Regions from separate parts of the Homo sapiens genome. Here regions 1, 2 and 3 are each linked to region 4. Evidence: fine-mapped expression QTL. A gene starts in region 4. Each other region holds a variant in brackets. All regions are shown on one strand. Distances are from middle to middle.

The links. PIP is the estimated chance that this variant, and not a neighbour inherited with it, causes the effect.
Region 1: its variant is fine-mapped to the expression of TSC1 in visceral fat (GTEx, PIP 0.96).
Region 2: its variant is fine-mapped to the expression of TSC1 in whole blood (TOPMed, PIP above 0.99).
Region 3: its variant is fine-mapped to the expression of TSC1 in whole blood (TOPMed, PIP 0.96).

The regions. Positions count from the first base shown.
Region 1 is chr9:132,243,703-132,251,953 of GRCh38, reverse strand. NTNG2 (netrin G2) reads right to left here. Exons shown (of 8, transcript NM_032536.4): 8 at 7,428-8,251. Among named protein-coding and RNA genes, the nearest start is that of NTNG2, 86 kb to the right of the region's middle. RefSeq lists enhancers at 5,923-6,428, 6,429-6,934. The variant G/A (reference allele first, on the strand shown) is at 3,863.
Region 2 is chr9:132,908,697-132,913,696 of GRCh38, reverse strand. TSC1 (TSC complex subunit 1) reads left to right here. Exons shown (of 23, transcript NM_000368.5): 9 at 1,240-1,415; 10 at 2,129-2,244; 11 at 2,584-2,695; 12 at 3,005-3,126. Among named protein-coding and RNA genes, the nearest start is that of SPACA9, 32 kb to the right of the region's middle. The variant T/C (reference allele first, on the strand shown) is at 2,510.
Region 3 is chr9:132,891,854-132,899,871 of GRCh38, reverse strand. TSC1 (TSC complex subunit 1) reads left to right here. Exons shown (of 23, transcript NM_000368.5): 21 at 2,262-2,449; 22 at 2,527-2,688; 23 at 3,118-8,018. The coding sequence ends at 3,637. Among named protein-coding and RNA genes, the nearest start is that of SPACA9, 17 kb to the right of the region's middle. The variant C/T (reference allele first, on the strand shown) is at 2,542.
Region 4 is chr9:132,938,910-132,946,595 of GRCh38, reverse strand. It overlaps TSC1 (TSC complex subunit 1), which reads left to right and starts at 1,980. Exons shown (of 23, transcript NM_000368.5): 1 at 1,980-2,053. It overlaps MIR548AW (microRNA 548aw), which reads right to left and starts at 889; the gene lies at 825-889. It also overlaps a transcript of GFI1B not described here. RefSeq lists enhancers at 1,263-1,402, 1,763-2,062, 1,375-2,108 and silencers at 1,583-1,662, 2,193-2,252, 2,313-2,372.

The sequences.
Region 1 (8,251 bases), 690 kb after region 4:
CTTCATGCCTTTTTCTGACTGAATCACAGTCCACTGTGTGGCTGTACAGCATTTTGTTTATCCATTCATTAGTTGATGGATAGTTGATGGACAATTTATTTCCCAAATGTGGCTTTTGTGCTGTTTTCCCAGTAGCCTTTGGTTATTGTGAATCGTGCCACTGTGAGCATTTGTGTACAAGCTTTTGTTTGAATACCTTCTTTCCATTCTTTGAGGACCTGTACTAGGAGCAGAACTGCTGGATCTTATGTGAATTCTGTTTGACTTTTTGAAGAATTGGTCCCCATGATTTTAAAGATAGACAAGGTAGTTGTCAATGTTTGAAAATCCAAAGGTTGACATTAAACTTGAGATTTCTGGTTTTTCTTGAAACATCTAGAGCAGGGGTCCCCAACCCCCAGGCCACAGACCAGTACCGGTCCATGGCCTGCTAGGAATGGGGCCACACAGCAGGAGGCGAGTGGCAAGTGAGCATCACTGCCTGAGCTCCACCTCCTGCCAGATTCATAGGACATGAACCCTATTGTCAACTGTGCATTCAAGGGATCTAGGTTGCATGCTGCTTATGAGAATCTAATGCCTGATGATCTGAGATGGAACAGTTTCACCTGAAAACCATCCCCCACTCTGATTATTTATCGGAAAATTGTCTTCCACGAAACTTGTCCCCAGGGAAATGCTGATCTAAAGAACCAGCAACACCAGGGCTTACGTCCCCCTGACACGTCAGTCTGAACTGAGGCTGCTTCTCACTCAAGACTTCCCTTGGCTGCCCCAGTGGCTGGCACAGGGCTGTCCAGCGTGGCACGCACAGCAGTACACATTTGCCGTTGGCCAAGCAGGCAGCTGGCTGGCTGGGGGTGGGCCCAAATGTCTCCACTCATAGGTTTCCTGCTACCCCAGAGCTCTGCCCCTATGTGCACCATGGGACTGTGGGTATTTGTGGCCGGTCTTCCAAGAGGGGTCACAGAGGCTGCCTGATAGCTTCTGTGGCCCCAGGGGGCCCCAGGAGGTGAGGCTGGGTATCTCCAGCCCTGCTCAGGGCCTCCCCAACCCCGCCATGGGCTTAAGGGGCGTGCCCCCCAGAGCCTGCACACTCCTTCTAGGCCACCCAGGATCAGAGCCTGGGTAGGGTGACTGGTTGGGGAAGCCAGGCCCAGCCACCCCACCACGTGCTGGCCACAGCTGGAGGAGTCCAAGGGTACAGATTTGAGCCCAGCCTTTCAGGTCACTGTGAAGGGATTGCTTGTCTAGGACTGGCTGAACTTTATTCAACAGCTTGATGGGCGGCTTTAAATATCCAGACACGTGGTACAGGAGCCTCCATCTGTGCTCTTGTCCTAGCCCTGGAAATGCAGGGGGCGCCGTGTTGACACCCAGAGGTCGGGATCCTGGTCTCCGGGGTTAGCGCTGCCTGGCTGTGTAAAACTCGAGTCACAGGTCTCAAAGCCACCCCGTCAAAGGCATTGTCCAGGCCTGTACTCCCCAGCACTGCAAGCCTGGCCTGGGCTGTGGGGGCCACCAGGAGCCCCGTCCTCAACTTATAGGCCCATCTTCTCCACGGGTCCCTTGCAGGCTCAGCTTCTTGGGAATTGGCCCTGCCTGGCCCTCATGTTCCTGCTGGGCCAAGCCAGGGGGCCCATGCGTCCTTTCTTGGGCATGGGGAGACCTCTGAAGGCAGGTGGCACAGTCAGCTGTGCCTGCTAGAAGGGCGCTGGAAACTCCATTTCCTGGTTCCCAACTGTCCCATTCACGCCCCACCTCCCCAGTCCTGTGAGCCTCCCTCTGCCCTCATCCCCTACCCCCCAAACAACCCCATCCCCAATCTTAAGCCCTCTGTGGGCAGGAGGGGAAAGGGGAAGGAGGTGTCCGGGTGTTTGAGGAACAGGCACCGAGGTTTCTGGGGCCTGCTGAGTCAGGCCGGGCTTGGCCAGGTGAGGGTGGTGGGGTGGGCAGGGGCTTCGGGAGTCTTCCTGGTCCTTCTTGTTGGCACAAAAGCTTGGGCCCCTCTGCAGATTACAAAGAATCTCAATCCTGCCTGGTGTGTAAGGCAGGTGGCAGCGAGGGGCCCACCGGGAGCTCCGGGAGGGCAGAGCCTGTGTCTGTCTGGTTCACTGGGCCAGGCTGGTCACGTTGAGGTGCTCAGGAATATGATGAGTGAGAAAGGAGGTGTGAGTGAGCCTGAACCCTCCTAGCAGGTTTTGGGGAGGGGGCACAGAGGAAACAAAGCAATCACAGCAGCTGACACTTAGGGATGGCTGACTTGGTGCCAGGCCCTGTTCTAAACACTGCGCGGCTCAACTCATTCACTCCTCACAACGGCCCCACCCTGCAGGCGCTATTTTTAACATCCCCATTTCACAGATGAGATGGCCAAGGCACAGAGAGACTGAGGAACTTGCCCAAGGATGTATAGTTGGCAGGTGTGGGGTACAGCTTCAAGCCCAAATCAGGTTCCAGAGCTCACCGTCCTTCTGCCTGAGGAGCTGCCCTCCCCTTCAGGGGCAGAAATGCGGGCACTGGGTCAGCAGTGAAAGGCACGAGCTCCCAGGACTCTGGGCCTCACTCCAGCTACTCCTGGCTGGGTCCCAAGGGCCACCTGCTCCATCATCCAGGGAGAGAGCCTCTGGCTGGAAGCCATCTGGAGCACTTTGGCCGCAGGTGCCTCCACCTGGCCGCCCCTGTGGGGCAGCAAGGTCTCCTGTGCCACCAGGAGCACAGGCACTGGGCCAGACCCTGAGGTGTCAGAAGGGTACATGGCAACCCCCTGCCCTGGGAGCCAGAGTCCCACTGCCAGCCGGCCCAGGCTGGGAGGGGAAGAGGGTGAGAGGCTGGGCAAAAAATGAAAGGTGGGGCTTTGCATTTCTTTTTGTTTTTTTTTGAGACGGAGTCTCCCTCTGTCACCCAGAGGAGTGCAGTGGCATGATCTAGGCTCACTGCGACCTCCGCCTCCCGGGTTCAAGCGATTCTCCTGCCTCAGCCTCCCGAGTAGCTGGGATTACAGGCACCTGCCACCACGCCCAGCTAATTTTTGTATTTTTAGTAGAGACGGGGTTTTGCCATGTTGGCCAGGCTAGTCTGGAAGTCCTGACCTCAAGTGATGCGCCCGCCTTGGACTCCCAAAGTGTTAGGATTACAGGCATGAGCCACTGTGCCTGGCCTTGCATTTCTTTTTTCTTTTATTATTATTATTATTTTTGAGATGGAGTCTCACTCTTGTCACCTAGGCTGGAGTGCAATGGCATGATCTCAGCTCACTGCAACCTCTGCCTCCTGAGTTCAAGCGATTCTCCTGCCTCAGCCCCCTGAGTAGCTGGGATTACAGGCACCTGCAGCCACGCCCAGCTATTTTTTATATTTTTAGTAGAGAAGGGGGTTTCACCTTGTTGGCCAGGTTGGTCTCGAACTCCTGACCTCAGGAGATCCATCCACCTCGGCCTCCCAAAGTGCTGGGATTGTGGGCGTGAGCCACCACGCCCGGCCTCTCTTTTATTTTAAAAGGCCTCCTTTGATAGTCTAGATACAGTGCTAAGTTTTATATAGCAGGCTAAAGAAGGATGTGTATACGATGAGGCCATTGTTGTTAAAAATAAATAAGATAAATAAATAAAGGGAAAAAATAAAATAAAAAAAGGTGCAGGGCTGTGCAGCCTGCCCAAGAGAGTGCATTTGAATCCTGGCCTCTGGCTCTTCCTGGCTGTGCGACCCCGGGCAACTTACACACCCGCTCCGTGGTGGACATTCTTTCTTTGTTTTCTTCCTCTGGTTGAGGAAACAGAGCCCACCCCCCCTTGCTGGAGTGGCAAATGCTGGACTGGAGGGTGCGGGTGCGTGGTGGGGGCTGTGGTGGGGAGGCCAGCAG[G/A]GGGTAGCCCTGGGGGTGAGGGATGTGCCCAGGGCAGCGCCCAAGGCAGCATCTGAAGCTCTGGCTCTCCAGCCACCCTGGGCGGGATACTGGGTGCCCTTCCTGACTCCACTTTACCTCCTCTTTTTTGTTTTTTTGTTTGTTTTTGAGATGGAGTTTTGCTCTTGTTGCCCAGGCTGGAGTGCAGTGGCACAATCTCAGCTCACTGCAACCTCTGCCTCCCAGGTTCAAGCGATTCTCCTGCCTCAGCTTCCTGAGTAGCTGGGATTACAGGCATGCACCACCATGCCCAGCTAATTTTGTATTTTTAGCAGAAACGGGGTTTCTCTATGTTGGTCAGGCTGGTCTCGAACTCCTGACCTCAGGTGATCCACCCACCTCAGCCTCCCAAAGTGCTGGGATTAGAGGCATGAGCCACTGAGCCCAGCTGTTTGTTTTTTTGAGACGGAGTCTTGCTCTTTGCCCGGGCTGGAGTACAGCGGCGTGATCTCGGCTCACTGCAACCTCCGTCTCCTGGGTTCAAGGGATTCTCCTGCCTCAGCCTCCCAAGTTGGGGGGGGGACTATAGGCATCTGCCACCACACCCAGCTAGTTTTTATTTTTATTATTATTATTTTTTTGAGACGGAGTCTTGCTTTGTTGCCCAGATTGGAGTGCAGTGGCGCGATCTCGGCTCACTGTAACCTCCACCTCCCAGGTTCAACGGATTCTCCTGCCTCAGCCTCCCAGGTATCTGGGATTACAGGTGCCCACCACCACGCCTGGCTAATTTTTATATTTTCAGTAGAGACGGGGTTTCGCCATGTTGGCCAGGCTGGTCTCGAACTCCTGACCTCAGGTGATCTGCCTGCCTTGGCCTCCCAAAGTGCTGGGATTACAGGTGTGAGCCACCGCGTGGCCCACTTTCCCTACTCTTACCTTGTTCTCCTGACATGTGTCTGAGGGGTCTGTGATCCTTTAATCTCCTCTGCCTCTTAAATCACCTGGTGTTTTGTTTCGGTGCTTGTGGCTAAGGTCCCTGGCCAGGACGCTTTCAGAGCCCTGGTATGTGGAGCTGTAAGATGGCCATATTATATTAATTGATCCCACGCTCAGCATCACTGAAGGGACCCTTGAAATAAGGCATGTCCAGCCTCAGTGCTAGGGCTTAGCAATTGCAGGGGTGGGGGGCGATGTCTGAGTGTGGGTTTTATTTTATGGAAAAACACTAGAAATATCTATCAGAAAACATTAACAGTTATGCTGGACGTGGTGGCTCACACCTGTAATCCTAGCACTTTGGAAGGCTGAGGAGTGAGGATGGCTTGAGCCCAGGGATTCGAGACTAGCCTGGAAAACATAGTAAAACTCCGCCTCTACCAAAAATATGAAAAATTAGCTGGACGTGGTGGTGCACAGCTGCAGTTCCCCCTACTCCAGAGGCTGAGGTGGGATGATGGTTTGAGCCCAGGAGGTGGAGGTTGCGGTGAACCGAGATCGTGCCACTGCACTCCAGCCAGGGCAACAGAGCGAGACTCCGTCTCAAAAAAAAAAAAAAAAAGTATTAACAGTTATTAGCTCTGGATGAAGAATTGTGGGTGAGTTTAATAGAAAAATTATTATGATTTTGCTTTTCTGTATTTTCGAACTTTCCTACAAGTTGTGACAGGTGGTTTAAACGGAAAAATAAATAAGTAATGTTTTTCTTCCTGGGGCCTTTCCCTTAACTCTTCTGGCTGGGATGTGCCGGGATGGACCAGGCCCCTGGGGAGACAGGGAGGCGGGCTCAGGTCTGCCGGGAGATGCTGCTGGCTGCTCCCCAAGCTCCCATAAATGCCTCGTAACTGTAAGGCATGAGCTGGGCAGGAAATGCCGACGCAGCAATTCTGCTTATTTAGGGGAGTGGGTGGGGGCAGGGGACAGGCCATGCTGCCGCAGAGGGCCAGGGGAGGCGTTTCCCCTGACAGCAGAGCGGTTCAGAGGAAGCTGGGCTCCCCAGGGTTCCTTGCTCAGCCTGACCTGGCTGTGGGCGCCAAAGGAGGCAGGCAGCTGGAGGCATGGAGGTGGGGGGGCAGCTGCAGCCGCCCGCCGGGGAGTGGATGCCCAATGCCTGCCCAGGGCTGCCTGGCCTGGGGGTGAAACACTGGGCTCTGGAGTCAGGCAGCCCTGGGTTCAACTCTCCTCTCTGCTTCTTAGAAACTGTGACCCCAGGCAAGTGACTTTGCCTCTCCCAGCCTTCACTTACCCTCTGTAAAATGGGCATGACCATCCTTTCCTCCTGAGGCAGCGAGTCTCAATCTAGGACGATTTTGCCCCCAATTTGGCAATTACTGGAGGCACTTTGAGTTGCAACAACTGGGGACGGTGCACATTGAAGTGCCACATGGAAGCCAGTGATGGTGCTGCACATCCCACGTGCACAGGGCAGCCCCCACGCCCTACCATGGAGAATTACCCAGCCCCCCAGGTCAATGGTGCTGAGGCTGAAAACCTTGCCCTAGGGTGCAGGTGAGGGTTGATGCAGTAATGTAAGCGCAGCGCCTGGGGATGCGGTGATGATGATCCAAGGCGCACAATGGGAGCCTTTTCCTCCTCACCTCCCAGAACCAGGTGTCAAAATATGAGCTCTGGGGACAAGGGTGTGCCATTTGAAAAGAGGATGGCCTAGGACTTTTGGCTCTGCTGACCTCGTTTTCTCCTCCTGCTGCCTGGAAGATGTCAGAGTTTTTCCAAATGGCCACTGGCAACATTCCCTCCACCCTCCGGGGAGGTCAGGGCCTGAGTGTGTCCCCGGGGACTGGGGCTGCCATTCTGATTTACAAAGAGCTCCACCTCCCCAGCCCTGAATGCACAGGCCGGTGCCAGAAAAGCTGACGCAGTGTGGGCCCAGCTGACGGAGGTCAAGGAGGACAGAGTGACTGCCCACAGAGGCCCCCCACCTCCCAGACCCCTCGAGGGTGTTCGGGGACACACCCAGGGTGACATAAAGAGGCATGCCCTCTGCACCACCGTGTGGGCCTCTTCACAGCCCCCAGCCGCCCACCTTCTGCACCAGGGGCTTCTACTGCAGCCCCCATGCCAGCCTGGCACTGGTGCCTGACAGAGGGTGGCCCACTTGCCTCCAGACAAGAACAGTGCTGGGATGTCATTGACGCTCCAGGGCCCCCAGCCTCGTGGATCCGGCCAGGGCTGGCCACTGGGGCTGGGCCCTGCTGTCCCTGTCTCAAGTTCTGCCTCTAGTTCTGCTTCTAGGTGACATTTTATCATCTTGATGACTAGGAGGAAATGCCTGCTGTTTACCGACTGCGGCCAGCGCTGCTGTTTCTCTGGGGTGAGTTCTGCTCAGCTGCCCTGTGCTCACTAGAAGGCAGGGGCAGTCCTGTTCTGGACAGAGGTGGACTCCTCGGCCTGAGTCATGGACATTCCTCTTCCTGGTGACTTGAGGGTCACCATGGGGGGCTGCGGCCAAGGAAGGGTGGGTTTCAGTCTCTCTCTGGCCTTAGAGGGCTCAGGGGGCCCGGATGCCAATCAGGCAGGGCCAAGAACTTGGAAAGTGTGCATGGAACAGAAAACCCAAATTCTAGTGTTTTAATCACATCACCGTTTATTTTTTTTCTCACACAGTAAGACAGGCAGGTGGTGCGGTGGCTCATGCCTGTAATCTCAGCACTTCGGGAGGCCAAGGCCGGAGGCTCACTTGAGCCTAGGAGTTTGAGACCAGCCTGGGCAACATAGTGAGACCTCAACTCTATAAAAATAAGTAGATAAATAAAAGCAGTGCAGAGGTTGCAGCCAAGGCAGGTGTCCCAGGCTCTGCAACTTCCACCCCCGGCTCCACCCTTCACTATCCTGAGGGTGACACTGTTATGCTCAGTGTCTCAAGAAGGCTCCTTCCCCATCCTGCTGACTGAAGAGCAGAGGGAGGGATGAGAGAGAAAAACCAGAGCCACAAACTTGGACAACTGAGGCTTTGTGGGGCGTGGAGGAAGGGATGACTTTTAAGAACTTTCTGGAAGCCCACCCATCAGTCCTGCTTACATCTCACTGCCCAGAGCTGTGTCCCCTGGCCACTCCTATCCACAAGAAGCCCCAGAGAGGTGTTTTATTTTATCTGGGCACTTTGGGTCCCAGGCAGTGGGGTTCTGTGCGTAAGGAAGAATGTGAGGGTAGAGATGGGCCAGCTGCAGGAGGATGCAGGGCCTGTCGGAAGGCACTTCCGGGTCAGCAGGGTGCTGGGGGTGGGAGCAGAGAGAGGAGGCCAGGAGGGGCTGGTGTGTGGGCTCGGGACACTGTGAGTCCTATGCAGTGTCCCGTTGTGCCTCCCCCTCCTTTTCTGTGTTGTAATCTCCTGCTGTCCCCAAGGCCAAGTTTGTTCCACTTGGTCTTAGCTTAGCTTTGGGGACTCAAGGG
Region 2 (5,000 bases), 32 kb after region 4:
CCGCCACCGCGCCCAGCTAATTTTTTGTATTTTTAGTAGAAACGGGGGTTCACCATGTTAGCCAGGATGGTCTCAATCTCTCGACCTTGTGATCCGTCCGCCTCAGCCTCCCAAAGTGCTGGGATTACAGGCTCACTTCTGTATGTACGTCAAGACATACAACAGTGTTCAGCACAGCACAGCTTGTAATGGAAAGAAGAAATAACCCAAAGTTCAACCAAAGGGTTATATTCTATAGAATAACTATTATTACACCCCCTGAAAAAGCATGCTTTTAGCAGATCGATAGTTGCAAGAAGTGGGGGAAGAGACTCACCACAAAGGGCACAAAGGAACTTTTGGGGTGATGGACATGTTCTTTATTATGATCGGGACTTTTGTCAAAACTTAGCAAGATTGACTAATTTTATTGTAAGCAAATTATGCCATACTAACACGTTGATTTAAAAAATCATGCCTTCAGCTGGGCATGGTCATGGCTTATGCCTGTAATCCCAGCACTTTGGGAGGCCAAGGTGGGAGGATCATTTGAGGCCAGTAAGTTCGAGACCAGCATGAGCAACAAAGTGAGACCCCATTTCTGTAAGAATATTAGCCAGGCACGGTGGCACGTGCCTGTAGTCCCAGCTACTTGGGAGGCTGTGGCAGGAGGATCCCTGAGCCTAGGAGTTGGAGGTAGCAGTGAGCCACGATCATGCCACTGTCCTCCAGCCTGGGTGATAGAGTGAGACCCCATCTCAAGAAAAAAAAAAAAAGAAAAAAATTCTCATGGACTTTCTTTAGTTTGTCTTTTTATACTCTGTTTCTGGTCCAGGGATGGATTTGACACCTGAGGCCTTGATAGGAGACCTTAAGTCAGCCTCAGCTGCTTGGCAGTCTCCAGGTCTCCCTATTTTTTGATGACCTTTGTTCCAAAGGACATTTTTCCCTGCCTGCTGCTCTGCTGCATAGCTTATGTTTCATTTTTCCATTTTGAGGCTACACCTAGTCTTTTGTTGAGGAAATATTTGTTTCAGATTAGCTTGTAAACTTGATATAACCATTTTAAACAGGGAAGGTATAGGATTGTAAAATGAATGGCTATTTCTTTATGTACTAGAATTGTTTCAGACTTGGGCTGGCATGGTCCCGCTTGTTCTTTGCTATCAGAGTTCCGTGGCTGGCACTGAGTTGACACTCTGAAGTATTTAATTCAGTTGATTACAGTTTGCATTTCTTGACTTTCATTGCATTTTACAGGTGGAAGAGATTAGAAACTCATGATGTTGTGATCGAGTGTGCCAAAATCTCTCTGGATCCCACAGAAGCCTCATATGAAGATGGCTATTCTGTGTCTCACCAAATCTCAGCCCGCTTTCCTCATCGTTCAGCCGATGTCACCACCAGCCCTTATGCTGACACACAGAATAGCTATGGTAAAAAGTGTCTTTGGTACTTATCTGTTTTGCAACTTTGTCTCTGGAAAACATTATTTGTCTTTGTTGATTTTCTTTTCTGGAGTAAGACTTAGTTCAGTTCCTAGGGATTTTTCCCAAAATATCTTAAATTTGCATGTCCCTCCATTTTCTTCTAATTAATTTCTCCTTCAAGTTTAATTTAGATGTCCTTGGTCTGCTACCTGATTGTATGCCAACAGAGTTGGTGACGTGTCTCCAACACTTAAGAAAGAAAATGGGTTTAAGTATTTGACTTCCAGACTCTACCTCATAAGGGAATCTTTCTGATTTTCAGACATTTAGAGTGAGGCTCTTGTGTCTGTAGCACTGACACAGTTTGAATGAGTCGGAACAATTTAGAATTGGATTCATATAAAAATCTAGGCTTTATTTGTGGGTTGCAGCCACTGAAGTTGTCATCTGTATTGTGCTTTTTTAAGTTATCTTGAGGCTTAATGAGACATCAAACCTTATTGAACTTTATTTCAAAGGAGCATTTAGAGAAACTCTGAAGTGTTACTTTGTCCCCAAGGATGTCAGTTAAGTCCCTCAGATTTTTTAGGTACAGAGAATTGAATATTATCAAATGGTCTAGAGGACCATCTTTTTTTTTTTTTTTTTTTTTTTTTTTTTTTAACCAGAATAACCTAAAACCACACACTAACCCCCTGTGTTCTTCTCTTCCATTTTAGGGTGTGCTACTTCTACCCCTTACTCCACGTCTCGGCTGATGTTGTTAAATATGCCAGGGCAGCTACCTCAGACTCTGAGTTCCCCATCGACACGGCTGATAACTGAACCACCACAAGTATGGTGTCAACTAGTGTGCCTGCTCTCTCCTCTGCTTTCTGGTGAAGCTGACCCTTTGGGTCAGATTTAGTATGTGGTTGGGAAAATTTCACACTGCTCATTTCAGGAGTCACTTTTAAGGATCCATGATATTAGCAAAGAAAGTTACTGTTGCCTCTTAGATTCATCTTGAAGTCTTGATTTACAAAATGCAACTTGTTTCTTGATACGCTTTTAATAAGATGCCTTTTTCTAGATGAAAAAGCTAAATTTAAGCTGAACAC[T/C]GGCCATGGATATAAACCTCGTGGATGACTTAGCATTCCTTTGCCACTGCTGATGTACTTTATTAACTTCCCAGGCTACTCTTTGGAGCCCATCTATGGTTTGTGGTATGACCACTCCTCCAACTTCTCCTGGAAATGTCCCACCTGATCTGTCACACCCTTACAGTAAAGTCTTTGGTACAACTGGTATGTATGTCTTAGGTTGGATTTGATTAGTTGGTTTTGGCCTGCCTTTAATGGCAGGAGGAGCTCTCTTTTAGATCTAAGGGACCACTTGCTGTTGTAAACTTGTTTTTGACACTTATTGCAAATCCCTGGGGCTTTCAGAATGTGTAAAGTGAACCTAAAAACAAAAAAGAGAGAGACTGATCTAGATCCCCAGAAAGTTAACTCTAGCAGCTTTATTTATAGTAATAGTTATAGGCTGAAAAAAAATCGGCAGTTTTTCTAATAGTTGGGCTCAGTGTTCATATATGTTCTGCCCTTGTCTCTAAGCAGGTGGAAAAGGAACTCCTCTGGGAACCCCAGCAACCTCTCCTCCTCCAGCCCCACTCTGTCATTCGGATGACTACGTGCACATTTCACTCCCCCAGGCCACAGTCACACCCCCCAGGAAGGTGCGATCCAGCTCGTCTGCTATCCCTCTGCCCAGGCACAGTGACTCACTTGCAAGCCTCACTTTGAGAAGCCTAATTATGCCAGATAGAATTCTGACCTAAAATGCAATGGGTTTGAATCAGAATAATTGAAAATGGACTAACAAGCTGCTCTCAAGGTGTGATCTGCCGACCCCTGGGTGGTTCCAAAACTCTGCTTTGGCAGAACTCTTGTGGGGAACCCAGCAGGTCAAACCTACTCTCTTGATTTTTTTTTTTTTTTTTTTTTTGGAGACAGGGTCTTGCTCTGTCGCCCAGGGTGGAGTGCAGTGGCACGATCATGGCTCACTGCAGCCTTGACCTCCCAGACTCATGCAATCCTCCTGCATCAGCCTCGCTAGTAGCTGGGACTACAGGCATGTGCCATGATGCCTGGCTAAGTTTTTTTTTTTTTTGGTGGAGATGAGGTCTCACTATGTTGCCCAGGCTAGTCTTAAACTCCTGGACTCAAACGATCCTCCTACCTGGGCCTCCCAAAATCCTGGGATTACAGGTTTGAGCCACCACACCTGACCAAACCCACCTTCATAGTAACACTAAGCTGTCATTTGCCCTTCCCACTGCATTGGCATCTGCAATGATGGCACAAATACGACGGGGGGTGAAATGGTGGCAACTTAGCCTGAATCAAGGCAGGCATTGAAGTGTCCTATCCCAAGAGGCCTTGCATTCTTCCCTGACATCTTCTCTCCATTAAAAACAATAAAAACTAAAAAATTTTAAAAGTTGAGTGTTCTGTATTAAGCAGTAACCATTATTAATTTTATTAAATCTTAGCCCTTGAGAACATGTATGTGTAATATTCTTCGTGGCAAAATAGAAAATATGCATAAGGCACATGTACTGCATACCAGGGTATGATGGTGACCTCTGGCCCTCATGCAGTTATTTGAATTGAGAGGTGAAGTAGCTGCCTTTTTTCATGGAATGCCAGTTTTATTTGAAAGAACTGCTGTCTTACAAACTGGTTATTCAGACTTGGGTGTTTGGCAGGCAGCTTCTCAAATGATGAGCTGAGTCTGTCACTTCAAGATAAACAACTGACAGTATTTGTTGCCAACAATAAAAGTCAACTCTCAGGTGGAAATCAAGATATTAAAAAACGTGTATATACTACCATGAACTTGATAGCTGCCCCAGGACTTTTATGATGAGACCGAAAAGTCTGTGGAAGCTTAGTTAGTAATTTGAGTTTTTGATATTGTATAATGAAGTGTTTCAACATTTGGAATATTTGAATAGCTTGAGGAGCCAATATTTTCAGAGTGTCCAATGTATGATACGTTGCAGAATCATGCATAGGTAAAAAGTACATTCAAAGTACAAAGCAGGCTGGGCGCAGTGGCTTACACCTGTAACCCAGCACTTTGGGAGGCTGAAGCAGGTGGATCACTTGAGGTCAGCAGTTGAAGACCAGCCTGGCCTACATGTTGAAACACCATCTCTACTAAATATAGACATTAGCCGGGTATGGTGGCAGGCACCTGTAATCCCAGCTACTTGGGAGGCTGAGGCGGGAGAATCACTTGAACCCAGGAGGCGGAGGTTGCAGTAAGTCGAGATCACACCACTGCATTCCAGCCCCAGCCTGGGCAACAGGGCAAGACTGTCACAAAAAAAAAAAAAAAAAGTGCAAGGTAGACTAGTGGGTTTTAACACAGGAAAAGCTCATTGATGTGGTTTCAAATTTCACTTTGTAACTTTAAGAAACTAACACTTATCAAATTTTGGTGTAATAACAAAGATGATTATTTGAAAAGTCTGTCAACATACGTTTACTTTTTGCGGCTGGGCGTGGTGGCTTGCTTCTGTATCCAGCACTCTGGGAGTCCAAG
Region 3 (8,018 bases), 47 kb after region 4:
AGAAACAGATCCGAGGCACAAGAGAGCTCCTGAAAAAGCTGCTGAAACGTGCCTGGGCCATCTCCTGAGAGAAGCCTAGATGGGCGGCCTCCAAGGAGTCCTTGTGCTGTTTGGGACCTTGAGTAGCTGCCTCTCCATGGGGCCCTGTTTCCCAGTTCATAAAACGGGTGATGCAGCTGAGTTGTGATAGTCAGGATGCCTTCAATTGTAGACAACAAAAACCAAACTAGGGCTGGGCACGGTGACACATGCCTACAGTGCCAACTATTTGGAAGGCTGAAATAGGAGGATTGCTTGAGCTCAGAAGTTCTAGACCAAGCCTAACAATATCCAAAAAAACAACAAAAACAAAAAGCACTCAACTGGCTTAACAGTGAAGAACTGTATTGTTTCACTTGACAAGAGGTTGTGAGGCAGGTGAGTTCCAGGTTGGTCAAGTTGGCCATTCAGGGACAGCATCGAGGAGCCAGGCTCTTTCCACTCTTCTGCACTGCCTTGCTTATCCTGCAGACCTTGTCTTCCAGCTAGCTGCACTCATGGTTGCCAGGTGTGTGCCACAGGCACAGATATGACAGGCAGACACAATGATGTCCCCACAGAAGAGGAGAGCATCTCTTCCTATTCCTCAGCAAGAAAATCTTTCCCAGGCTGGACGTGGTGGCTCATGCTTGTAATCCCAGCACTTTGGTAGGCCGAGGCGGGTGGATCACGAGGTTAGGAGAACGAGACCATCCTGGCGAACATGGTGAAACCCCGTCTCTACTAAAAATACAAAAAATTAGCCAGGTGTGGTGGCGCACACTTGTAGTCCCAGCTACTTGGGGAGCTGAGGCAGGGGAATCGCTTGAACCCCGGAGGCGGAGGTTTCAGTGGGCCGAGATCACGCCACTGCACTCCAGCCCGGTCAACAGAGCAAGACTCTGTCTCCAAAAAAAAGAAAAGGAAAAGAAAACCTTTCCCAGATGATCCCACCATACTTCTCATCACCCCTGTTGGCCAGGCCTGTCCTGTGCCCATCCCTAGCCTAGTCATTGCCTCAACCCAGTCAGGATTTGCTCCTGAACCTGGAGCTAGGGTTGCTCTTGTTCCATCCAAAGGAGGAGGAAGAGTGAGTGGTGGGGAATCAGGTGGGAACAGTTGGTAGGGGTAGCTGTAAGGATTAGTGAGAGTGCACGGATGTTCCTGGTTCAATGCTTTGCATGATTATCCATGAATAAGTCCTGTTGTTTATGACGAAGGCCAGATAGATGCGTTCATCCACCCTGTGCTGAAGTCGAGCCATTTAGCACAGCTGGAACAGCCGCATTATCCGAGAGCCAGTTCTGAGTTTCAATCAGTTGCGTTCTATAACAAGGAAGCATTGGGCTTACCAGACAGCATCAAGGCAGGGCGCCTTCGTGAAAGCTCATCTCCTTGCTGTTTATGGTTTATTATCTTTTTTAAAAAACAAATATATGGCAAGTTTTGTGTTTTGTATATTTTACCACGGTAAACATACACACACAAATGTAACACAGGCTTAAAAAAATACCCTTTCCGCCTTCTTTCTGAGCATTAGTGTGTACTTGCTCTGGGTTTCAAGCTGTTCCAATCTGTCGGCAGCAGGCCATCTGCCTTAGCACGATCAACAAACCTTGTCAGGGCATCCAGTCTGCAAAGGCTGCTTTGCTTGAGCAGACCTGCTCCATTGGCATTCCATTCTGTAGCCTCACCTGCGCTATTGTCAGGAGGGGGAGAAAAGGAGAAAGGAAAGCAAGTGACCTGCGGTACCACTGGACTGAAATGATAACTGGATAGTGGCGTATTTTCACTTGGTGTTTTGTATATGTATATGTTCGCATAGTTGATTGTACTATTCACACAGTCTTGTAGTCTGCTTTTTAATCTTTTTACTGACACCATATCATTTTTTAAAAAGACTTAGAAATATAGGATGTATTTTAATTTACTTAACTGTTCCCCTGACATTAGACTTAAACGATGTTTCCAGGTTTTTGCTCTTATAAATATGCTGTGATGATTATTTTTGTGCAAAATCTCTATTTATGTTTCACATGATTTGCTTGGGGATAGATTTCAAGGAAGGGTTACTAGGATAATACTACCAGCTTACTTTCCATAAAGTTGTACTAGTTTATATTTCTGTTATCAGTATACTAAAATGCCTTCTCAGTCCTTCTTACATTGTCTTTTCAAAATGGATACAGCATGTTTATTTTTTATAAGTACTAATTCCAGTCTTTTTTTTTTTTTTTTTTCAGGAAGTAGAAATGATGAAAGCCGCCTATCGGAAAGAGCTAGAAAAAAACAGAAGCCATGTTCTCCAGCAGACTCAGAGGCTTGATACCTCCCAAAAACGGATTTTGGAACTGGAATCTCACCTGGCCAAGAAAGACCACCTTCTTTTGGAACAGAAGAAATATCTAGAGGATGTCAAACTCCAGGCAAGGTAACTTTCATCAGGAAAGGCTTTTGTGTTTTTATTAAGTGGAACTTCCTATATTCTGGCTGGTCTGTATCTTTCAGAGGACAGCTGCAGGC[C/T]GCAGAGAGCAGGTATGAGGCTCAGAAAAGGATAACCCAGGTGTTTGAATTGGAGATCTTAGATTTATATGGCAGGTTGGAGAAAGATGGCCTCCTGAAAAAACTTGAAGAAGAAAAAGCAGAAGCAGCTGAAGCAGCAGAAGAAAGGTAGGAACAAAGAACTGATTCATGACCTTGGGACTAAGCTGCCAATTCCAGCATAAGGACTGTGTCACGTGGTGTGGGAAGCAGTTACTGCTGACTAGACAGGCTGCAACACTCAGCTCACTCCGTGTCAGAGACCCACTCTGACGTTCCTTTCCTCAAAACGCCCAGTGATCTCTTCGTGTTCGTGTTCCTGGCCTTGAGTCCCTCCATATGGCCACAGGAAGTGTTCACACTTAAGATTGCCACCTACTATCCCTAGTTGTGATTTAGGTTTCTCTTGATGAGATCTCTTGAGTCCAGTATTATAAAACAGAGAGTGGGCTAGCGGAGTTCAGTGTCAGTGTGAGTGAGTGTCAGTGTAATTCCACATCCTCCGAATGTGGACAGTCCAATCACCAGCTCCTTTTTTCCTCCCCGGCTTTCTTACAGGCTTGACTGTTGTAATGACGGGTGCTCAGATTCCATGGTAGGGCACAATGAAGAGGCATCTGGCCACAACGGTGAGACCAAGACCCCCAGGCCCAGCAGCGCCCGGGGCAGTAGTGGAAGCAGAGGTGGTGGAGGCAGCAGCAGCAGCAGCAGCGAGCTTTCTACCCCAGAGAAACCCCCACACCAGAGGGCAGGCCCATTCAGCAGTCGGTGGGAGACGACTATGGGAGAAGCGTCTGCCAGCATCCCCACCACTGTGGGCTCACTTCCCAGTTCAAAAAGCTTCCTGGGTATGAAGGCTCGAGAGTTATTTCGTAATAAGAGCGAGAGCCAGTGTGATGAGGACGGCATGACCAGTAGCCTTTCTGAGAGCCTAAAGACAGAACTGGGCAAAGACTTGGGTGTGGAAGCCAAGATTCCCCTGAACCTAGATGGCCCTCACCCGTCTCCCCCGACCCCGGACAGTGTTGGACAGCTACATATCATGGACTACAATGAGACTCATCATGAACACAGCTAAGGAATGATGGTCAATCAGTGTTAACTTGCATATTGTTGGCACAGAACAGGAGGTGTGAATGCACGTTTCAAAGCTTTCCTGTTTCCAGGGTCTGAGTGCAAGTTCATGTGTGGAAATGGGACGGAGGTCCTTTGGACAGCTGACTGAATGCAGAACGGTTTTTGGATCTGGCATTGAAATGCCTCTTGACCTTCCCCTCCACCCGCCCTAACCCCCTCTCATTTACCTCGCAGTGTGTTCTAATCCAAGGGCCAGTTGGTGTTCCTCAGTAGCTTTACTTTCTTCCTTTCCCCCCCAAATGGTTGCGTCCTTTGAACCTGTGCAATATGAGGCCAAATTTAATCTTTGAGTCTAACACACCACTTTCTGCTTTCCCGAAGTTCAGATAACTGGGTTGGCTCTCAATTAGACCAGGTAGTTTGTTGCATTGCAGGTAAGTCTGGTTTTGTCCCTTCCAGGAGGACATAGCCTGCAAAGCTGGTTGTCTTTACATGAAAGCGTTTACATGAGACTTTCCGACTGCTTTTTTGATTCTGAAGTTCAGCATCTAAAGCAGCAGGTCTAGAAGAACAACGGTTTATTCATACTTGCATTCTTTTGGCAGTTCTGATAAGCTTCCTAGAAAGTTCTGTGTAAACAGAAGCCTGTTTCAGAAATCTGGAGCTGGCACTGTGGAGACCACACACCCTTTGGGAAAGCTCTTGTCTCTTCTTCCCCCACTACCTCTTATTTATTTGGTGTTTGCTTGAATGCTGGTACTATTGTGACCACAGGCTGGTGTGTAGGTGGTAAAACCTGTTCTCCATAGGAGGGAAGGAGCAGTCACTGGGAGAGGTTACCCGAGAAGCACTTGAGCATGAGGAACTGCACCTTTAGGCCATCTCAGCTTGCTGGGCCTTTTGTTAAACCCTTCTGTCTACTGGCCTCCCTTTGTGTGCATACGCCTCTTGTTCATGTCAGCTTATATGTGACACTGCAGCAGAAAGGCTCTGAAGGTCCAAAGAGTTTCTGCAAAGTGTATGTGACCATCATTTCCCAGGCCATTAGGGTTGCCTCACTGTAGCAGGTTCTAGGCTACCAGAAGAGGGGCAGCTTTTTCATACCAATTCCAACTTTCAGGGGCTGACTCTCCAGGGAGCTGATGTCATCACACTCTCCATGTTAGTAATGGCAGAGCAGTCTAAACAGAGTCCGGGAGAATGCTGGCAAAGGCTGGCTGTGTATACCCACTAGGCTGCCCCACGTGCTCCCGAGAGATGACACTAGTCAGAAAATTGGCAGTGGCAGAGAATCCAAACTCAACAAGTGCTCCTGAAAGAAACGCTAGAAGCCTAAGAACTGTGGTCTGGTGTTCCAGCTGAGGCAGGGGGATTTGGTAGGAAGGAGCCAGTGAACTTGGCTTTCCTGTTTCTATCTTTCATTAAAAAGAATAGAAGGATTCAGTCATAAAGAGGTAAAAAACTGTCACGGTACGAAATCTTAGTGCCCACGGAGGCCTCGAGCAGAGAGAATGAAAGTCTTTTTTTTTTTTTTTTTTTTTTAGCATGGCAATAAATATTCTAGCATCCCTAACTAAAGGGGACTAGACAGTTAGAGACTCTGTCACCCTAGCTATACCAGCAGAAAACCTGTTCAGGCAGGCTTTCTGGGTGTGACTGATTCCCAGCCTGTGGCAGGGCGTGGTCCCAACTACTCAGCCTAGCACAGGCTGGCAGTTGGTACTGAATTGTCAGATGTGGAGTATTAGTGACACCACACATTTAATTCAGCTTTGTCCAAAGGAAAGCTTAAAACCCAATACAGTCTAGTTTCCTGGTTCCGTTTTAGAAAAGGAAAACGTGAACAAACTTAGAAAGGGAAGGAAATCCCATCAGTGAATCCTGAAACTGGTTTTAAGTGCTTTCCTTCTCCTCATGCCCAAGAGATCTGTGCCATAGAACAAGATACCAGGCACTTAAAGCCTTTTCCTGAATTGGAAAGGAAAAGAGGCCCAAGTGCAAAAGAAAAAACATTTTAGAAACGGACAGCTTATAAAAATAAAGGGAAGAAAGGAGGCAGCATGGAGAGAGGCCTGTGCTAGAAGCTCCATGGACGTGTCTGCACAGGGTCCTCAGCTCATCCATGCGGCCTGGGTGTCCTTTTACTCAGCTTTATAACAAATGTGGCTCCAAGCTCAGGTGCCTTTGAGTTCTAGGAGGCTGTGGGTTTTATTCAACTACGGTTGGGAGAATGAGACCTGGAGTCATGTTGAAGGTGCCCAACCTAAAAATGTAGGCTTTCATGTTGCAAAGAACTCCAGAGTCAGTAGTTAGGTTTGGTTTGGTTTTGGACATGATAAACCTGCCAAGAGTCAACAGGTCACTTGATCATGCTGCAGTGGGTAGTTCTAAGGATGGAAAGGTGACAGTATTACTCTCGAGAGGCAATTCAGTCCTGGGCAAAGGTATTAGTACAATAAGCGTTAAGGGCAGAGTCTACCTTGAAACCAATTAAGCAGCTTGGTATTCATAAATATTGGGATTGGATGGCCTCCATCCAGAAATCACTATGGGTGAGCATACCTGTCTCAGCTGTTTGGCCAATGTGCATAACCTACTCGGATCCCCACCTGACACTAACCAGAGTCAGCACAGGCCCCGAGGAGCCCGAAGTCTGCTGCTGTGCAGCATGGAATTCCTTTAAAAAGGTGCACTACAGTTTTAGCGGGGAGGGGGATAGGAAGACGCAGAGCAAATGAGCTCCGGAGTCCCTGCAGGTGAATAAACACACAGATCTGCATCTGATAGAACTTTGATGGATTTTCAAAAAGCCGTTGACAAGGCTCTGCTATACAGTCTATAAAAATTGTTATTATGGGATTGGAAGAAACACGTGGTCATGAATAGAAAAAAAACAAACCCAAAGGTAGGAAGGTCAAGGTCATTTCTTAGATGGAGAAGTTGTGAAAGATGTCCTTGGAGATGAGTTTTAGGACCAGCATTACTAAGGCAGGTGGGCAGACAGTGACCTCTCTAGGTGTGTCCACAGAGTTTTTCAGGAGAGAAAACTGCCTGACCTTTGGGACTAAGCTGCGGAATCTTCTTACTAAGCTTGAAGAGTGGAGAGGCGAGAGGTGAGCTACTTTGTGAGCCAAAGCTTATGTGACATGGTTGGGGAAACAGTCCAAACTGTTCTGAGAAGGTGAACTGTTACGACCCAGGACAATTAGAAAAATTCACCCACCATGCCGCACATTACTGGGTAAAAGCAGGGCAGCAGGGAACAAAACTCCAGACTCTTGGGCCGTCCCCATTTGCAACAGCACACATAGTTTCTGGTATATTTGTTGGGAAAGATAAAACTCTAGCAGTTGTTGAGGGGAGGATGTATAAAATGGTCATGGGGATGAAAGGATCTCTGAGACCACAGAGGCTCAGACTCACTGTTAAGAATAGAAAACTGGGTATGCGTTTCATGTAGCCAGCAGAACTGAAGTGTGCTGTGACAAGCCAATGTGAATTTCTACCAAATAGTAGAGCATACCACTTGAAGAAGGAAAGAACCGAAGAGCAAACAAAAGTTCTGCGTAATGAGACTCACCTTTTCTCGCTGAAAGCACTAAGAGGTGGGAGGAGGCCTGCACAGGCTGGAGGAGGGTTTGGGCAGAGCGAAGACCCGGCCAGGACCTTGGTGAGATGGGGTGCCGCCCACCTCCTGCGGATACTCTTGGAGAGTTGTTCCCCCAGGGGGCTCTGCCCCACCTGGAGAAGGAAGCTGCCTGGTGTGGAGTGACTCAAATCAGTATACCTATCTGCTGCACCTTCACTCTCCAGGGTACATGCTTTAAAACCGACCCGCAACAAGTATTGGAAAAATGTATCCAGTCTGAAGATGTTTGTGTATCTGTTTACATCCAGAGTTCTGTGACACATGCCCCCCAGATTGCTGCAAAGATCCCAAGGCATTGATTGCACTTGATTAAGCTTTTGTCTGTAGGTGAAAGAACAAGTTTAGGTCGAGGACTGGCCCCTAGGCTGCTGCTGTGACCCTTGTCCCATGTGGCTTGTTTGCCTGTCCGGGACTCTTCGATGTGCCCAGGGGAGCGTGTTCCTGTCTCTTCCATGCCGTCCTGCAGTCCTTATCTGCTCGCCTGAGGGAAGAGTAGCTGTAGCTACAAGGGAAGCCTGCCTGGAAGAGCCGAGCACCTGTGCCCATGGCTTCTGGTCATGAAACGAGTTAATGATGGCAGAGGAGCTTCCTCCCCACTTCGCAGCGCCACATTATCCATCCTCTGAGATAAGTAGGCTGGTTTAACCATTGGAATGGACCTTTCAGTGGAAACCCTGAGAGTCTGAGAACCCCCAGACCAACCCTTCCCTCCCTTTCCCCACCTCTTACAGTG
Region 4 (7,686 bases):
TGTAAAGTAGTTTGCAGATTGGTGGAACTGAGAGAACCCAGACCCTTCCCCGTTTCCCTCGACCTTTCCATCTCTGGACCCCATGCAGACTATGCTTGGGTGGTGACACAGAAGAATTTAGTGTTTGGTGGACCCGTTTCTGGAAGTGATGGATGCTGACAGCTGGCACTTAACAGTTATCAAAAATAACATTAACTGGAGTAGGCTCTGTGCCACTTAGAGCTTAATGACTCACTGACTTCACCCCAAATCCCCATGAACTAGCATTATTATTAGCCCTATGTTGCAGGTGAGGAGACTAAGGCTCATCCAGTTAGAACATGATGGCTGAAACCTACATTCAAACTCTGGTCTGTTTGAATCTAGAACTCTTAGCTTCCCCCCAGCGACTGTGTTAGAACAGAGGAATCATCAGTTCAATTTTCACCTCCCTCCTAAGCCTTCGTGGCTCTAGACGTATGGTTATAAAGGTTGTTCACTGCTCAAGGGCCCAGGAGGGTTTGGGGCTGGTGGATAGGGGCCAAAATACAGCCCAGGGGTGCCATTTTTCTAATTCTCACCAAGGCCCTATACTGACTAGCAGCGGCTCTACCCGATACCATCCAGGGCCTTTTCAGAATTCTGAAGGCACCCACGGTGCTGGCTACTCACACACCTGGCCCCCCTTAACCATGGCTGCCTTGCACTGTGACCCAATTGGTTCCCATGACAAAACCTGTTATTCCCATAACTCACCCAACACTTTTTTGCCCCTAGGCTCTTGCTCCTTTGGTTCCCTCTGCCTGGAATGGCCTTCTCTCCCGAGCCGCCTCGCCTGGTTCTATTAGGTTGATGCAAAAGTCATCGCGGTTTTAATGGTAAAAACCGTGATGACTTTTGCACCGACCTAGTATTTCACAAAACCTACATTTCCTTTAAAACCCAACCTGATGCCTACTCCTTCAAAATGCCTTTCATATCCCACAGTTCGACTTCATCTCACTCTGCCTCCTCTCACAGGGCTTTGTGTTCGTGCTGGATGGAGCCCATCATACTCAGCCTCGCAATAAAGGCCACCTATCTAGTGAGTGAGCATTTACTAGGCGCAGGACTCTGGGCTAAACGCTGTCCATACTTCATCTCCTTGATTCTTCACGTCACAGATGTCATTATGCCCATTTCACAGAGGAAGAAACTGAGGCTTGGAGGACTTAAAGCCTTGTTTCAGCAGGAAACGGAATAAGGCGTTCTGATTTTCAAGCTGTCTCCTATTAGGGCTGGTTTCCCCTAGATGTCATGAGTAGGTGTGAAGTGTGAGCTACTTGAAGGCAGAAGCCAGGGGGGTCCCCCGCAATCCCGGAGGCGGGCTTCTGAAAATGTTTAGCCCAGGAAGGAGGGCTGCCCTGGCCCGCAGCTTTCCGCCCCTTCCCAGGTGAGCTGCAACTCCAAAGCTCCCAAGCAGGCCCTTCACCCACGCGGGCCCCAGCAGCTCCTTGGGAAACAGGATCGCTGCTCTGAGGCCGCCCACAGAGAGACCCTCGGAGGGCGCCACGCAAGCGAAGGGCAGAAACGACTCGGGGGGCAGGGGCAGGGCGCTCCAACCACACCCAGGCGCCGCCAGCTTGTTTACGCCTCTCCGCCGCGTCCCCCCGCCCGCCAGTCACGTGACCGCCCGCCCCGCCCCCTCGGGCTCTCGCGTGGCTCCTCCCGCCGCGCCGGCCCTTCTTTTTGCCTCCTTCGCGGAGTCACAAGATCTCTTCGCAGCCTCCTTTCGGATCCTTCCGCCCGGCCCCGCCCCCCTCCATAAAAACCCTCCTTACTTTTTTTCTCGTCCAACCCACATCGTCAGTTATGAGTGGAAGAGCCTCTTCCTTCCGGCGGGGCTGCCGAGCGCGGCCGTCTATCCTTCCTTTCGAGAAGGAGGGGAGGTCCGGAGGGGGACTCTTTTTCGTGGCGGAGGCCGCCGTCGGCCTTGGCCCTTTCACGACGGGGGAGGTGCTGTACGTCCAAGATGGCGGCGCCCTGTAGGCTGGAGGGACTGTGAGGTAAACAGCTGAGGGGGAGGAGACGGTGGGTGAGTATGGGGGTGTCTCCCCCTCCTTTTTATGGGGGCTTCCTGGGGCAGCCCCGGCACCATGACTCCAGCCGGGGAGGCTCGGAGGGGCTGGAGCAAGAGACTCACTTGCTTGGTAGGGATCCCGGGGAAGGGGGGTTCGGAGAGCTCTCCCCTCCCTCTTATTACACGCTATCTCCGGCTGGCCCGGCCGGGACTGGCGGGTCCCTGGGGAGGAGAGGCGAGCCGGACGGAGCACTTCGCCCCTCCTTGGCCCCCGAGGGGACGGCTGCACCCTGGGCCTCGGTCCCTCGGGCAGGGGCGAGGTGGGCCCCTTCGTCAGTCCCTCACTTGGTGGGGTGACAGGTTCACGCTAGGTGCGGAGGGCAGGGTAGAGACGCTTGGCGGGAGGGGAAGGGTCGCGAGGGTGGGGCTGGTCCCAGAACTTAAAGAGAGGGGTCGGGGTATAGGGGCGTGGAGAATGAATGGAGGTCGCCTGTGGGGATCAAGGACTCGCCTGGATTCGGTGTCTCCGCTGAAATTTGCATGACTCGCTCTGGGTGTACTTGTGGGTGTTTAATTGGTGGTGAAAGACAGTTACCTTAAAGTGGGCAAAGGGGATTCCTAAGAGACAGCTATTTGCAGAGCCCCTCCTAGGCGTTCATTCATTCATTTGAGGAACTGGAGGATGAAGAGCCTGCAATCGGAGGGACCTTGTAGAATTAAAGCTCTTTCTTTGTGTTTCCTGTTAAAGAGTTTTGCTTTGTGTGTTTTGGATGTGTGGTGAGGACTTGGGAGGGGACGCGGTCCTCCTAAGAACAACAGCTAACGTTAATGGAGTGCTCTCTGTGTGCCAGGCACTGTGAAAGTGCTTGGCAGTCATTATCTCCTTTGGTCCTCACGACAAAGAGAAGAGGCAGCCACTGTTAACACCTCCAATCTTCTCAAATGAAGAAACTGAGGCCCGGAGAGAGCAGGGTACTTTGCCTAAGTTCACACCCCAATTGTATCTGAGCCAGGACTGGAACTGCTGGGATCTGACTGACTCCAAAGATATGACTCTTAAATTTATCTGTTATTTGATCAAAGCTGGCCTGTAAGTGATTAAAATTTATCATTTAGCCAAGGTTTATGCACGTGTGTCTGTTTAATGTTGAAGTGGGGGGATGCACTTGGCTTATCCGCCTTAGCTTTTGTTTGGGATGGCAGTGTTGTGCATGTGAACTTGTTAGTCTAAATTAGGCTAAAAAGTATTTGATAGTTTAATAAAACTGATGAGTTTACTGAAGAAAGAAGTCCTGCTAAAATCCTTGCTGGCTTTTTTTTTTTTTTAAATAGAAAGCATACAAATAACACTTCACGTTGCATAGAGTAAGCTATAAAAGTGCTAAAATAGAATAATACTCTTCTGAGATACTTTGATTTATAATTTTGGGATCAACTTGGAGTCATCTGAATTCAAACAGGCCGGCAAAGTGGAGCTGTAAATTTCAGGAAGCATTATAAAACCTAATCTTTGGGGAGCCTTTGATTTACCGAGCAACCACCTGTGATTCTTAAATTGAACATTCCTGAGTAAATCTGGAATATGCAAATGTGAAAACTGATTTAGGGTTGTGTAGGGAAATGCACCTTTAACAGTCATGCATCAGGCAAATGAGGCTCCTCAGAAACAGTGAAACATTCTTTGCTATTGCCCTAGGGAGCTGCAGAATCTTCCTCTAACCACCTGGTGTAAACTTAAGGGGTATTTATAGAAGATGTAAACGGAAAATATCCTCTTACTAAAGTTAATATCTTATCCAAAACACTCTTATATCACGTGCCTAGAAGGGCAGATGATGTAAACTTTCTCTGCTGCATGCATTTCCTGGTGTCATAAACACTTGGTACGTTCCTAAATTCCTGGTTAGAAAGCAGGTGGCTACCAGCCTTCTTGTTTCCATAAAATTAGAGTGCTTCAGGTCCTGTGACTCAGTTGTCCTCTTCCTCACTGGGTTAAGAGTAAAAACTGATACTGCTACTGTTGTGGTGTAATATGATGCCTTCTGTGCATGCCTGGTTTCATTCGTGAGATGAAACTTAACAGTCTTACTAGGGCAAATCTAATATATACCTCTATATGTAATGTTTGCAGAATAATGAACTTGGTGGAAACGAGATCTGAAACCCTAGTGCTCATGAGAACCTTGATGTACAGATATTTGGCACTATACTAGGTAGACCTACATATTCGGACACCTTGTATATATATTTTGGAAGAAGACTGATTCTTATGTGCACCGGAGGTTGAGGACCACTGGCTTCAAGTATCATTCTGGCTATTTTCATTTATTATTTATCACAGAGGTATTTCTTAAAATAGCTTGTAGCCTTTTATTTGTGTAGTGGTGGGTGAATTTTGGGCTCTGAATTAGAGCTGACTTGTTCTTATAGCTCTGTCTTCATTTGAAGTTTGTTTGGCTACAGGTATGTTTATTTCTGGGTTCCAGGGCCATAGTGAACTAAAATTAGCTTTTCCTGGAATTAATTGGATATTCTTGAATGCCGATGAGCCAAATATAGCAATATCTCAACCATTTCAGGCTTTTCTAGAGAGTCAGATAGCTTTTGACCTTCAGTGGGTCACTTAAGTTCTGTGAGCCTGTGTCTTCATCTGTGAAGTAAAAGTTGGAATGTAAATTAATGAGTATTTCTAGGCCTACATTTCTGTGATTTAAAGTCCTTTGGGGTGTCATTTAAATATTCTGACTAAATCGATTGAGTCAACCTGTTAATGGTTTTATAAAAACCAAGCAAATTGGTGACTTTGAGCCTACCCTGTTGGGTGAAGATCTGTTTATCATTTATCCTTTCCTTTACATCATAATACTCTTTGAAAAGGTAATTCCCTATAAGTTTCCCATATTATAAATCTCTGAAAGGTTAGTCTTTGCATTGGTTTTGTCATTTAAGTAGCTGAAGGCGTGAAAGAAAAGTGTACTTAATAGCGTTAAAATCTGTGGCTGTTTGCTTGAAATGTGTATATGTAGTATACACTCAAACACTGAGTTTGTTTTTTTTAATCTCAGATCATGAATTGGTAACTAATATAATTTGGGTAGCATGAAATACTCATTCTCCATTTAAATTCATCTGAAAGAGGTAAACTGTCAGCAGTTTGAGATTATTCTTTCTCTGGTTTACTTTTTAAGACTGTAGTTGCTAGAAATTAGTAACTTTATGTCTGTTTTCATGGGAGAGAATAAAAATGCAAATTTTATATACTGTGTATAAAATACACTGTCTCAGGACCTTGTCAGTTTCTTCTTGTCCTTTCTCTCGTTCAGTGCTAACTTTTATTATGAACATGGAATCAGCAAAAGATAACAATACTTTTTACGGTTGAATGAATTCAGATTTACATCTAATAAGTAAAATGTCTTAAAAACCATGCTTTAGTCCAAAATAAAGCATAGTAGTTACTGCCCTACAACTCACAGGTCACTCTCTTAAGTAAATATGATGGCAGTAGAGGCCCAGAAGTGTTGGAGTAACAAAGGACAGTTTTGCCCTTCTGTGGGTGATGTGATGGAAGACACAGAGGGGAGCTGTAGGAAGAACAGAGGCAGTGACCTTAATGTCTGCAATCATTAAGACTCTGCTACTTTGAGTAGTTCACAGAGCATAGTAACAAACTTGAACTGTATCCATTTTAAGTTATACAATGGTTGTATCAATGTTTCAAATACCAGTTGTTAAATGGATAGACTGCTAAGCATTATGTACCCAGCAATCCATTTTTGTGAAGTAGTAATATTGTTATAATAAAGTTTATATTTTTTGAGTACTCATGTGCCAAACACTGTGGTATTTTACATGTCTGATACCCCATTAACTTCTTACAGCCTTAAGAGGCAGGATAGGAAGAGGAAGCAGGCTTAGAGTAAGTTGCCTATAGTCACTTATTCAGTGGCTAAGCTGGGATATGAACCTTTTTGGTTGACTCCACAGCCCAAACATTTAGTCTTCCACTGTGATAAACTGCTTCATCTGCTGACCTCATAAATTAACTCACAGGTCAGGTCAGTGGTTCTTAACTTTGGTGGTGGTGGGAAGGTGTGTGGACTCAGTTGCCCTCTGAAAATCTGTGGGAAGCTATGGACCAAATTTCTCTTCTACCCTTTATGTCCCATCATCACCAAAAAAATTCATACAGACATGGGATTTTGGATATGGCTTCAGGTAATTTATGGACGCAGCTTGAAACCCAGCTGATCATTTTAGATAGATTACTGCTCTAAAAATGGACTTAGGCTTTATTAAAAAACTTTTTTTTTTTTTTAACTAGTAGTCAGGAAAGGCCCAAGTCAGAAGGTGGCCTTATGTACTGTCTGGGTTATAAATTACTTTGTTAAATTTCTGTAGTGTACCCAGGTATGTAACCTGCTACGTGCTTGTCAGGCTTGGCATTCGGTCTGTGCTGGTACCTTTAGCACCTGGCAGAATTCCACTGGGCCTTTTCCCCAAGGTTTATGCACTCTATATATTTTTTTCCTTTTGAACCTCAAAGGAGGTATATTAATGAATGAATGTTTTTTACCTTCATCCTTCTTTTTCCTAGACCAGTGGTTCTGAACCTTTAGTGGACGTCAGAATTACCTAGAAGGCCCCACCCCCAAAGTATCCAATTCCGAGATCTAGTGAAAGGCCTGAGAATTTACATTTCTAACAAATACCCAGGCTCCTGCTCGTGGTGCCAGGACCACATTTTGAGAACCACTGCCCTAGACTATCAAACTATACCCTTCTTCCCTAGAATACTTCTATTTTGGTCCTATAAACCTGAAACCTAAAGATATCTCACAGTTTGCTTGTATCTCTTTTAGGAGAAGCTCTGCGTAGTGTCTTTTTGAAATATACATGGTATCTGTTTGGCCTGTATTATCTTAGTAAATAATGTTGTTCATGTTAATAGAAAGTCAAAACGTAAGCATTATTTATTGAAGAGATACGCCTTACCAAAATTAAGCTCTGGCCTTACACTTAAGTTACTAGAAGATTCTTCACCTTTGGGATAGGCTATAAGCTTTAGCAAACCATCCATCAAGGCCCCTGATGGCAGAAATTCTGAATGGAGAATCTGGCAAGTTGGAGCTCTCCTGCCCCAGTTTGTCCTTGAGAGGGACTCCAACTACTAAGACCTATTCAATCACACATGACTACACATGTTGGCAGGTTTTACCATCAGCTGTTTTACTCTCACATAGTAAGTAGTTATTTCCTACCCTTTTTTCCTTCCTTCTAGGCACTGATAGGAAGAGAGAATGGGAGCAAGTATCTTACCCTTTTTAGATGCATTTGTGCTGAAGGCGTCTTGGTTCACTTGATAGAATATTACCCTAAGAAGTCACCTGAGAGTTCCTGAGCCAGAGCGGAACATTAACTTAACAGTGTAACATTTCTGCTCTATCTAACTGTACCTGATAATAAAATAGTCTATCCATGCCTGGACCTGTGTCTGAATTGTCCTTGAATTTTTATGGATAAAAAATTGAATATAGGAAACAAGTTATAGTGAAGAGACATCTGCCTTCATTTACACATGCAGTACATTTTTACATCATAGACAAATGTGTACAAAATTATCTTAGGCAAATTGATATGCGGTCACC